Homo sapiens: one gene and its partners. The protein of the gene in region 1 interacts with the protein of each later gene in a pairwise test. Each region holds a gene or a part of one and is shown on either strand. Other genes may lie near its edges. The genes, in order: NRF1, PLXDC1 and MVP.

Region 1 (3,650 bases):
TTGAGTAAAGAGTTAAAGATTATAGTGTGGTTATTGGGTGATGATGATGCCTTTAAGATAGGGAATGTATAGGAAGAACAGAATTTGAGGAGGAAGGTAATAGAGTATGACTCCAGATGTGTTAAGATATCTGGGAATCAAGAAAGGTCAAGTAAGTACCTGGGTATTTGGGCTGGAGCTCAAGGGGACATTGGGATAAATTAGGGGATTTGCATTCATCAGTATAATGCCATATAGAAACTGCAGAAAGCCAGGCATGGTGCCTCACACCTGTAATCCTAACACTTTAGGAGGCCAAGGCAGAGGATCACTTAAGGCCAGGAGTTCAAAACCAGTCTGGGCAACGTTGTGAGACCCTGTTTCTACAAAAATTTAAAAAATTTGTCAGGTATAGTGGTAGCCACCTGTGGTCTCAGCTACTCGGGAGGCTGAGGCTGGAGTATGACTTGAGCCCAGGAGTTTGAGGCTGTAGCAAGCTATGATAGGGCCACTGCACTCCAGCTTGGGTGTCAGTGTAAGACCCTGTCTATAAAAAAGAAAGAGAAAATAGTACAGATTGAGTATCCTTTATCCAAAATGCTTAGGACCAGAAATGTTTTGGAGTTTTTTTTGACTTTGTAATGTTGGTATGCATATAATGAGATACCCTGGAGATAGGGCCCAAGTCTAAACTTGAAATTCATTTGTGTTTCATATACATCTTACAACCTGGATGCAGTTTTATACAATATTTTAAATAATTTTGTGCAGGAAACAAAGTTTTGATTCCATTCTGACTGCAACATGTCACCTGAGGTCAGGTGTGGAATTTTCCACTTGTGGCATCATGTCAACACTCAGAAAGTTTCAGATTTTGGAGCATTTCAGATTTTAAACTTTTGGATTAGGAATGCTTAACCATATCAGGAGTGAAGAAAAAAAACTAAGGGCAACCTTGAAGAGCATCTACATCTGAGGGTCAAGTAGAAGAATAGAAACCTATGAAGTAAGTTGAGAAAGAATGGCTAAACAGATAAGGTTATAGGGTTGAAGAAGCTGAAGAGAGGGATTAAGTGAATACTGACAGGGAAGTTAGCCGTGTGAAATACCACAGAGTTCATTGGTTTGGAGGGCAATGCCGGAGGATCGCTTGAACCCAGCACTTCAAGACCAGCCTGAGCAACATAGCAAGACCTCGTATCTATTAAAAAAAAAAAAATCATTGGGATAAAAACTGGACTTGGCATACGTGTATATATATATATATATATATATATATATATATATATACACACACACACACATATATATACACGTGTGTGTGTGTGTGTGTGTGTGTGTGTGTGTATATATATATATATATATATATGTATTGTTTTGCTGGGAACCATGATAGTTTAGACAGAATAGATTTCTAGAGCATTACTAAATTCAGGGGTAGGTCCTACAGAATCTAACTTAGTAGAAGACCCATGCTTAGAAATAGGTCCTGTTCTTCCATGTCTCTCTGCAATGGGAGTTGCAGCTTAAATGCTTTGGGAGATGACCCCCAATGACAAGGCTGCCTAAAAATCTCCATATTGTTTGGGTTGTTTTTTTTTTTTTTTGCCTCTTTTACATTGTCTTAAATTCTGAGAATTGGAGATTTCATTTGAGTTGACAGTGTCTTAAAATACAAATAACCTCTTGCAGAGTTTTGAGGTTTTATGATATTAATATGTTAAGTATGGGGGTTTTTAACCTGGGGTTTTCTGGTTCTGGGGTTTATATATTTTGGCTGTGTGACCCTGAATCCCTTAAAATTGTTTGAAAAGTTATGTGTGAGTGCATGTGTGATTTTTCTGGGGAGAGGGTCCACAACATTTATGAGATTTTTCAAGGGGGCTGTTGACACACAGAAAAGTCAAGGGCCTTTACTAAATGTTAATGATTAAATCAAGTGTTGGTTGTGTTCGTTGGCTGAAATCAGTTATCTCAACAAGTGAGACAGATCAAGGGAAAGAAATCTTGAGTAGGTGTCTCAGGTGAAGAACTTTGGAAAGATACGAGGAACTTCTTAGAAATGGGAGTAGGAGCACCAGAAGGAAGGTAGGAGGAATGCCAAAGCAAAGCTTAACCGATTTCAGAATTTTGTCAAGTCTCTGGATTGCTTGGTTTTTTTATACTCTAGGACTGACACTTAGTATATGTTTATTCATGCACTGTAGATACAGTAGGCTTTATGGGGTAGGGGAATCAAATCACTTTTTTTTTTTTTTTTTTGAGATAGAGTCTCGCTTTGTCACCCAGACTGGAGTGCAGTGGTATGATCTTGGCTGACTGCAACCTCCGCCTCCCGGGTTCAAGCGATTCTTCTGCCTCAGCCTCCCAAGCAGCTGGGATTACAGGCGCCTGCCACCATGCCCAGCTAATTTTTTATTTTTAGTAGAGATGGGATTTCACCATATTGGACAGGCTGGTCTTGAATTCCTGACCTTGTGATCCGCCCGCCTTGGCCTCCCAAAGTGCTGGGATTACAGGCATGAGCCACCGCACTGGGCCCAAATTACTATTGTTTTAAAGGGAAAGTGTTTTGAAAGAAAACAAATTGATAGATTGTGCTTGTTGGAAAAAAATTTTTCTACCAAGCTGGCTCATCTGTCAGAAAAAATTCATTTTTAAGTTAGGTGTTGCTTATGCTTTGGAAAAAATTTTAAATGCACAAATATTTCAGTCTAGTGATATGGGGCAAGACATTTATTTTCTCCTTGCAAATTTTTTCTGACCATGAAATGAAAATACCGTTGATGGTTTTTGTAGTGTCTTTCTGAAATATGACGATTATGGAATACTTTGAGATCCAGGATGATTTAATGCTAAGAAATTGCTGGCATTCACATTTCTAAAGTCGTGAATAAAATTAAGAAATTCAAGCACATTATGTGTTCACTAGATCTTACTTGATTTCCAAAATATTTCTTTTTGAAATTTTAGATAATTGGTAATTTTTACTTCCTTCTGCTAATCTTTGCATCTTTGAAATTAGATTAGGAGGCAGTTTTGTCAGCTAGGCCCTAGTTTCTGGGGCAGTGATATCCATACTTTTGCTTGCCACCCTCAAAATAAATTAATGCCACTTGGGATTAATTTGTGATTTTTCTGGGGAGAGGGTCTACAACTTTTATTTATTTTACCAGTAGTCTTGGTAAATACAAGAATGATATGAATAAATATGTTGGGTAATCTTAAACTTGTGTTATGTGATTTGTAATTAGCTTGTGTTTGTGGATGATCTTTACATTCAGTAAATCTCCAAAGAGGGCCCAGATAGAATGGAGTATTTTGTCTTTTCCTTTGGGAACTTTTTTTGGTTCTTTCTTTCATTAAACAATTATGAAATAAAATTTTTGGTAACAGATCTTCCATGTAAAAATAGCCCACAAATCAAAGAACTAGCCAAGATTTGCTAAGTAAGAACACATCATGGAATACCATCATAGAACTAGTCTCTTACCCCAAAACTAGCTGTAGGTGCTAAGTCTAAAGAAGAAGTAATTCTGATATGTTACCAGAATTATGTGGTAATGCGACTGAGTGTTAAAATTGTTGTCTTCTTTAATTTTTGGCTCTATTATTTTAAAAGTTTTTCTCCATAGAATTTTTTTTTTTTTTTTTTTGAGATACTATCTCGC
Region 2 (3,650 bases), on another chromosome or scaffold:
AGGGAAGCTCTCAGGTTCAGGCCCAATGGCAGCCTGAGTAGGGCCCTCCAAGAACCTAGCCCACATGCCAGCCCCACCCCGGGGCTGCCCCTGCACCCTGGGAAACAGTGGGGATTGTCGGTCACTTTTTACTGCACTTTCTGTGGTTCTGAGTAGGCTCTGGAGCCAGCCTGCCTGAGTTCAGATCCTGCCATGGACTGGTTCTGTGACCTTGGGAGGTTCCTTAACGTCTTTGTGCCTCAGTTTCTCCATTTGTAAAATGGATTTTAAACTAGTAACTATTTCATGGGATTATTGTGGGGATTAAGGGGGTGGATGTGTTTAAAGCCCCTGGAATAGTGCTAGCACAGAGCAGCATTCTCTGAAAGTCAGCTATCATTTTTATTACTAGGGTGATTATTATGGCATCCCACTGGACTGCACACTACTTGGGGCCATGAGTGAGTGAATCAATGAATGAACAGCTTGTGTTCCGGAAGCTCCTTGGCAACACATGCAGGCGGGGAACGGGTCCAGGGAAAATGGAGCTCTCTCCAGTGGAAGGCAGGTGGGGTGAGGAGTGGCTGAGGGTTGGGCAGGTGTCCAACTTGTGTGTGAGCACATACGGGAAGGCCGAGGCTTTCAGGAAAGTCTTTGTGGGCATGTGCACAGGCACGTGGGCCCCTGCACATACACGTGAGCAACCAGCTGTGTTGGCTTCTTTCATGAGTCGTGGGGATGACGTCCTGTCCCAGGCAACAGGGAAGGAAGGGTGGCCAGGAAACAGATGTAGTATGGGTTGGAAGAGTAAGATTCAGGGCTAGGCCAGGGTAGGCCAGGGTCCTGGTCAAGCTCCCTCTCCATCCCTCGCCCTGCCCTCTTTCATGGACTCTTTACCTCTTACCCTGGCCTGAGCTCTCTATAAAACCTCATTTGTGTTTCTCACTTGACGCTTATGGCAGCCTGTACTGTGGGCACCATCGTCAAATCCATTTGAGTCACTAGGGAGCTGAGGATTAGAGAGGAAAACTGATGGGGCTAAGGTCCCATAACTTGTGAGTGGCAAGACTGGGTGTGGAGGTCAACCCAGTGTCTCTTCCCTGGCCACCCCCAGCTGGGCCCCCTCCCTGTCCTTCCCCGGGCTGCAGGCCTCCACCATCCCGCCTCCTGTCTCGGCTCCAGGTTTGTGAATCCTGAAGATCCCCAACACTCCTCTCTGGGCCGCTGAGCCCCTCCACTTGTTCACTACCCGCTCTATCCTGTTCTGGCTCCTGCCCAGGCCCCAGGGCTGCTTGCAGGAAGACCTGGGGAGCTGGGCAGACCAGCCCAGCACAAACAGCTCTGTCTCCAGAAGCAGCTGTGGGCCCCACCCAAGAGAGACCAGACAGCCCTGGCTTGGGCCTGGGCAGTGGGCAGGCTGCCTTCCCAGCCCTGGACTCATGTCCATCTGTGGGCAGCCAGTGGGCATCTTGGGGAAGGGGTCTGGGGACTGCCCTCCTCCCCACGTGCTCCAGCAGCATCTGGTTGCTATTAGGGGCAGAGAAGTGAGAGGGGGCCGGCAAGGGTCCAGTAGGCGCCAGCAGCCAAGAATGACTTAATTGGATACAATGTCTAATGACAAAGCAGGGCCCCACAGCGGAGTTCTGGCCTCAGCCCCAGGCCTGGGCCTGGCCAAGCCTGGTCTCAACCTCTGTCCTTGCTGGCTCCCAGGAGCTACCCTATGCACTGCGTCCTCAATTCTGCAGTGATGGAGCACCTGCTGTTTGCTGGACATGCCAAATTTGAAGAAGGTGGAGAGAATCCTGGGGGAACTCAAATCTACCAGGGAGATAGGCACATAGTCGCACACGTAGGTGCTCTAGGAGAGGGAGAGCCACATCCAGGAGCTCTGGGGAGTGGGCTGGGGGAAGGCAGAGGTTGAGACAGGTATCTGACACAGGGTGGGCCTGAAATGGAAGAGGGTCATAGGTGGGGAATGTCAGATCCACCTATCTGATGGTCTGTTCTCATATATACATCCATAGTAGGTGTGACCATTAGAATGACAATAAAAGCCACAGCTTTGGGGGGCATAAATCTTTTTGAAGTGGAAAAGGATGGTTTTTGTGTTGTTTATTTATTTATTTGGAGAAGGAGTTTCGCTTTTTTGTCCAGGCTGGAGTACAGTGGCGCAATCTCGGCTCACTGCAACCTCTGCCTCCCAGGTTCAAGCAATTCTCCTGCCTCAGCCTCCCGAGTAGCTGGGATTATGGGTGCCCGCCACCATGCCCGGCTAATTTTTGTATTTTTAGTAGAGACGGGGTTTCGTCATGTTGGCCAGGCTGGTCTCGAATTCCTGACCTCAGGTGATCCACCCACCTCAGCCTCCCAAAGTGCTAGGATTATAGGTGTGAGCCACCACGCCCGGCCTTTTGTTAGAACTAATTTAACAGACCTGGTGCAGTGGCTCACGCTTATAATCCCACCACTTTGGGAGGCCAAGGTGGAAGGACCGCTAGAGCCCAGGAGTTCAAGGCCAGTGTAGGCAACATGGTGAAACCCAGCCTCTACGAAAAATACAAAATAAAATAATAATAACTAGCCGGGTGTGGTGGCATGCAACTGTAGTACCAGCTACTCAGAAGGCTGAGGTGGGAGGATTGCTTGAGCCTGAGAGGTCAAGCGTACAGTGAGCTGTGATTGTGCCACTGCACTCCAGCCTGCATGCTAGAGTGAGACCCTGTCTCAAAAAAAGCATGCATTTAACAACCTAGAGGGAACTGGAGAGGAGATCATGGAACCTAAAGCCATTTCGCAACCTCCAGAAATGGAGGTTCGCATGGCCGCGAAATGGCCTGTGTGTAGTCACTTTCCAATCCTGTGCCCATGGCAGACATTGCTTATTGATCTTCACAGTCCTTCCTGCTAAATACAAGAGGAGCCTTTGCATTCTCAGTTGGAGTGCCTCTGGCTGTCACGAATGGATTGCAGATGGCATGTGATATGAAACCTATTTGCCATCCTAGACAGTATCTAGGTAGTGATAGGAGTAAAACAGTAAAAAATTACCCCTCCCTCAATGGGGCAAGGGGGGGTTAATTTTATTCCCCAGGGGATATTTGGCAATGTTTGGAGACGTTTTTCATTGTCACAGCTTGGGATGGGGAGGAGCGTGGTGCTACTGGCATTTAGTGAGCAGGGGCCAAGGCTGCGGCTGCTAAACATCTTACAGAGCACTGGACAGTTCCCGCATAACAATGAATTATCCAGTCCAACCAACAATCCAATTTAAAAACAGGAAAAAGACTTAAATAGACATTTCTCCAAAGAAGATATACAAATGGCCCACAAGCATATGAAAAGATGTTCGGCATCACTAATCATCAGGGAAATGCCAATTTATAAAAACGATGAGATATAACCTCATACCTGTTAGGATGGCTACTATAAAAAAAACAGAAAATAACAAGTATTGGCAAGAATGTGGAGAGATTGGAACCCATGTGCACGGTTGGTGGGAATGTAAAATGGTCCAGTCATTTTACATGGAAAACATTTTATATGGAAAACAGTATGACAATTCCTCAAAAAATTAGAAATAGAATTACCATACAATCCAGCAATTCCGCTTCTGGGTATATACCCAAAAGAATTGAAGGCCAGGTCTCAAAGAGATATTTGTACACCCATGT
Region 3 (3,750 bases), on another chromosome or scaffold:
TTGGGGGGTTGCCTGAGCCCAGGAGTTCAAGACCAGCCTGGGCAACATGGCAAGACCTTGTCTCTTCTAAAGAGAGATTCCTGGGTGAAAGCAGCTTCCCCATTCTGGGCCTGTTTGTTCACAGGCACTTTGAGGTGAATGACCGGAAGGACCCCCAAGAGACGGCCAAGCTCTTTTCAGTGCCAGACTTTGTAGGTGATGCCTGCAAAGCCATCGCATCCCGGGTGCGGGGGGCCGTGGCCTCTGTCACTTTCGATGACTTCCATAAGAACTCAGCCCGCATCATTCGCACTGCTGTCTTTGGCTTTGAGACCTCGGAAGCGAAGGGCCCCGATGGCATGGCCCTGCCCAGGCCCCGGGACCAGGCTGTCTTCCCCCAAAACGGGCTGGTGGTCAGCAGTGTGGACGTGCAGTCAGTGGAGCCTGTGGATCAGAGGACCCGGGACGCCCTGCAACGCAGCGTCCAGCTGGCCATCGAGATCACCACCAACTCCCAGGAAGCGGCGGCCAAGTAAGTGAGGCTGGGAGCTCGGCTGCCTATAATGCCCATGGCAGGCCACTGCTGGGAACTGGATAACCTGGCATCCCTTGTGGACTGCCTGCTGCCATCCCTACCCTCAAAGATCTATTCCCTACCCAACAGATCAGGTGACCCACTTAAAATGTGAATCAGGCTGGGCGCGGTGGCTCATGCCCGTAATCCCAGCACTGTGAGAGGCTGAGGCAGGAAGATCACTTGAAGCCAGGAGTTTGAGGCTGCAGTGAGCCATGATTGCGCCACTGCACTCCAGCCTGGGCAACAGGCCTGGGAGACTGACCCTGTCTCAAAAGAAAAAAAAAAAAAAAAGCACGTATCAGATGTGGCTCCTGCAGCCTCCCATCTTGCATGTGATAAAACCTAAACTCCTTCCTGCAGCTCCAGCCGGCCTCCCCCGATTTGCCTTCTAGCCTCCCCCTTCCATGCTCCTCGTCCCTGGAACATGTTCCAGCTGACATGTTCCAGCCCCACTGGCTTCCTCTGCTCCTTCAATGCACAGCTTGGACCCACCTGAAGGCCTTTTGCAATGGCTATTCCTGCTGCCCAGAAAGCTTCCCCCCGCCCCTGAGCTCCCTTCCAGGCAGGCTTCTCCTTCTGGCTTCAGCCCAAAGATCCCCTCCTTGGGGAACACTTTTCTTTCTCTCACAGCTGAATAGCACCCTCTTTGCCTGGTCTCTCCCACACTTGTCACTGTCTGAAATCCTCCTTGTATACTTGTTCTTTTCCCACTCAAGTGGCGTGAAAGTAGGGGGCCGCAGTCACGCCTGCATTTGTCCGGCCTAGAATGACACTGGCTTGTGGCGCGTATACCATTCTGGGTTGAGTTGCGTATTGGGTGCCTTCTAGGGGCTGGGGTCTGTCCTGGGCACCGGTTTGGTTGGTGGCCGCTGCCCTTGGCGCTCCTGTTCCTGCTCTGGCCCCATGCCAGCCTCTCACCTGCGCTCCGTCTCCTCCAGGCATGAGGCTCAGAGACTGGAGCAGGAAGCCCGCGGCCGGCTTGAGCGGCAGAAGATCCTGGACCAGTCAGAAGCCGAGAAAGCTCGCAAGGAACTTTTGGAGCTGGAGGCTCTGAGGTGGGTTGAGAACTAGAGGAGGAGACTGGCAGGGGCCGAGGGTCTTAGGACAGCAGCTGGTGTGGGCAGCAGGCCTGGGTGGGGTGTCGATGAGACAGTGCACGGCTACAGCATAAGCCAAGGCCGTGGGGGGACTGGGCTGTCTCCCGGGTCTTACCTGACTCTGCCTTCTCCCCAGCATGGCCGTGGAGAGCACCGGGACTGCCAAGGCGGAGGCCGAGTCCCGTGCGGAGGCAGCCCGGATTGAGGGAGAAGGGTCCGTGCTGCAGGCCAAGCTAAAAGCACAGGCCTTGGCCATTGAAACGGTGAGTGGGGGGAGGCATTAAGAAGAGGGTGGCCTTGAGTCCTGGAAAAGGCCCATTCCCTACAGTCCCTGAGACTGTATAGGACACCAGGTCCCCCAACATAAAGCCCTATCCAAGTACTTTGCATTTGCAAAGTCCTTTGCCTTGTAGGATTCATTGACTCCATTGCTGGAAGGTAAGGATTAGAACACCCATTTTGCAGCTGGGCGCTCATGCACTGGCCACCTTGGCACAAGTGCTGTGTATGCTTCATAGGCATTATCTTATTTAATGCTTGAAATCCCATTAAGAGGCCGGGTGCAGTGGCTCACGCCTGTAATCCTAGCACTTTGGGAGGCCGAGGCGGGTGGATCACCTGAGGTCAGGAGTTCAAGACCAGCTTGGCCAACATGGTGAAACCCCATCTCTACTGAAAATACAAAAAATTAGCTGGGTATGGTGGCATGTGTCTGTAACCCCAACTACTTGGTAGGCTGAGGCAGGAGAATTGCTTGAACCCAGGAGGTGTGGAGGCTGCGGTGAGCTGAGGTTGTGCCACTACACTCCAGCCTGGGCAACAAGAGTGAAACTCCATCTCAAAAATAAAGTAAATAAAAATAAATGTAAAAAGAGGCCTAGTGTGGTGCCTCAGGTCTCTAACCCCAGCACTTTGGAAAGCTGAGATGGGAGGATCATTTGAGGTCAGTTCGAGACCAGTTCAAGACTAGCCTGGGCAACATAGCAAGACCTCATCTCTACAAAAACAAAATTTTTTAATTGACTGGGTGTGGTGGCACATGCCTGTAGTCCCAGCTACCCAGGAGGCTGAGGCAGGAGGATCCTTTGAGCCAGGAGTTCAAGGCTGCAGTGAGTCCTGATCTGCATTCCAGCCTGGGTCAAAAAATAAAGAATGATTGATTTTTCCTCTTCCAGGAGGCTGAGCTCCAGAGGGTCCAGAAGGTCCGAGAGCTGGAACTGGTCTATGCCCGGGCCCAGCTGGAGCTGGAGGTGAGCAAGGCTCAGCAGCTGGCTGAGGTGGAGGTGAAGAAGTTCAAGCAGATGACAGAGGCCATAGGCCCCAGCACCATCAGGGACCTTGCTGTGGCTGGGCCTGAGATGCAGGTGAGAGTTGGGGAAGGTGTGTTGGTTTCAGGACCAACCTTGAAACCAGGAAGGCAGAGCCAAGGCGGAAAACACAACATCTGGAAAGATTGTGGGGAAGGGAGGGGTGAGTGACCTGACCCACGATGCAGGGACATTCACACAGTGTCACGCTGCATCAACGTCAGGCACTGTACTAGACCCAGCAGTGAGCCAGAGCTCCGGAGGAGACAGGAAATGGATGGGACGCCAGTCTGACAGGCATTTCCAAGGCAGTCAAGCAGGGTGGTCAGATGCAGGGGAGGTGACCCTTCAAACCAGCTGACTTAAGGAGGGTCACTCTGAAGTGGCCAGGGTTTGACGCCCATCTCAACTTCCTCCTGTTCTCACCCTCCAGGTAAAACTGCTCCAGTCCCTGGGCCTGAAATCAACCCTCATCACCGATGGCTCCACTCCCATCAACCTCTTCAACACAGCCTTTGGGCTGCTGGGGATGGGGCCCGAGGGTCAGCCCCTGGGCAGAAGGGTGGCCAGTGGGCCCAGCCCTGGGGAGGGGATATCCCCCCAGTCTGCTCAGGCCCCTCAAGCTCCTGGAGACAACCACGTGGTGCCTGTACTGCGCTAACTCCTGATTAATACAATGGAAGTTTCTGGGCATTTACAATTTCAACACTTTTCTCTTGTCTGACATTGGTTGGGGTTACCAGGGAGCTTAATGGTGGGGAGGGGAGGTGCCCCTGGCATCTTTTTTTTT

The links.
Region 2: the proteins of NRF1 (region 1) and PLXDC1 interact in a two-hybrid assay, tested with the Homo sapiens proteins (one large-scale study listed by BioGRID).
Region 3: the proteins of NRF1 (region 1) and MVP interact in binary tests that used the Homo sapiens proteins (3 or more experiments, as listed by UniProt).

The regions. Positions count from the first base shown.
Region 1 is NC_000007.14:129,618,166-129,621,815, forward strand, and holds part of NRF1 (nuclear respiratory factor 1), read left to right. Parts: intron 1-3,650. UniProt on the Homo sapiens protein: Transcription factor that activates the expression of the EIF2S1 (EIF2-alpha) gene. Links the transcriptional modulation of key metabolic genes to cellular growth and development.
Region 2 is NC_000017.11:39,141,594-39,145,243, reverse strand, and holds part of PLXDC1 (plexin domain-containing protein 1 precursor), read left to right. Parts: intron 1-3,650. UniProt on the Homo sapiens protein: Plays a critical role in endothelial cell capillary morphogenesis.
Region 3 is NC_000016.10:29,844,369-29,848,118, forward strand, and holds the end of MVP (major vault protein), read left to right. Parts: intron 1-124; coding exon 125-511; intron 512-1,494; coding exon 1,495-1,611; intron 1,612-1,789; coding exon 1,790-1,916; intron 1,917-2,828; coding exon 2,829-3,017; intron 3,018-3,393; coding exon 3,394-3,621; 3' UTR 3,622-3,653; downstream 3,654-3,750. UniProt on the Homo sapiens protein: Required for normal vault structure. Vaults are multi-subunit structures that may act as scaffolds for proteins involved in signal transduction. Vaults may also play a role in nucleo-cytoplasmic transport.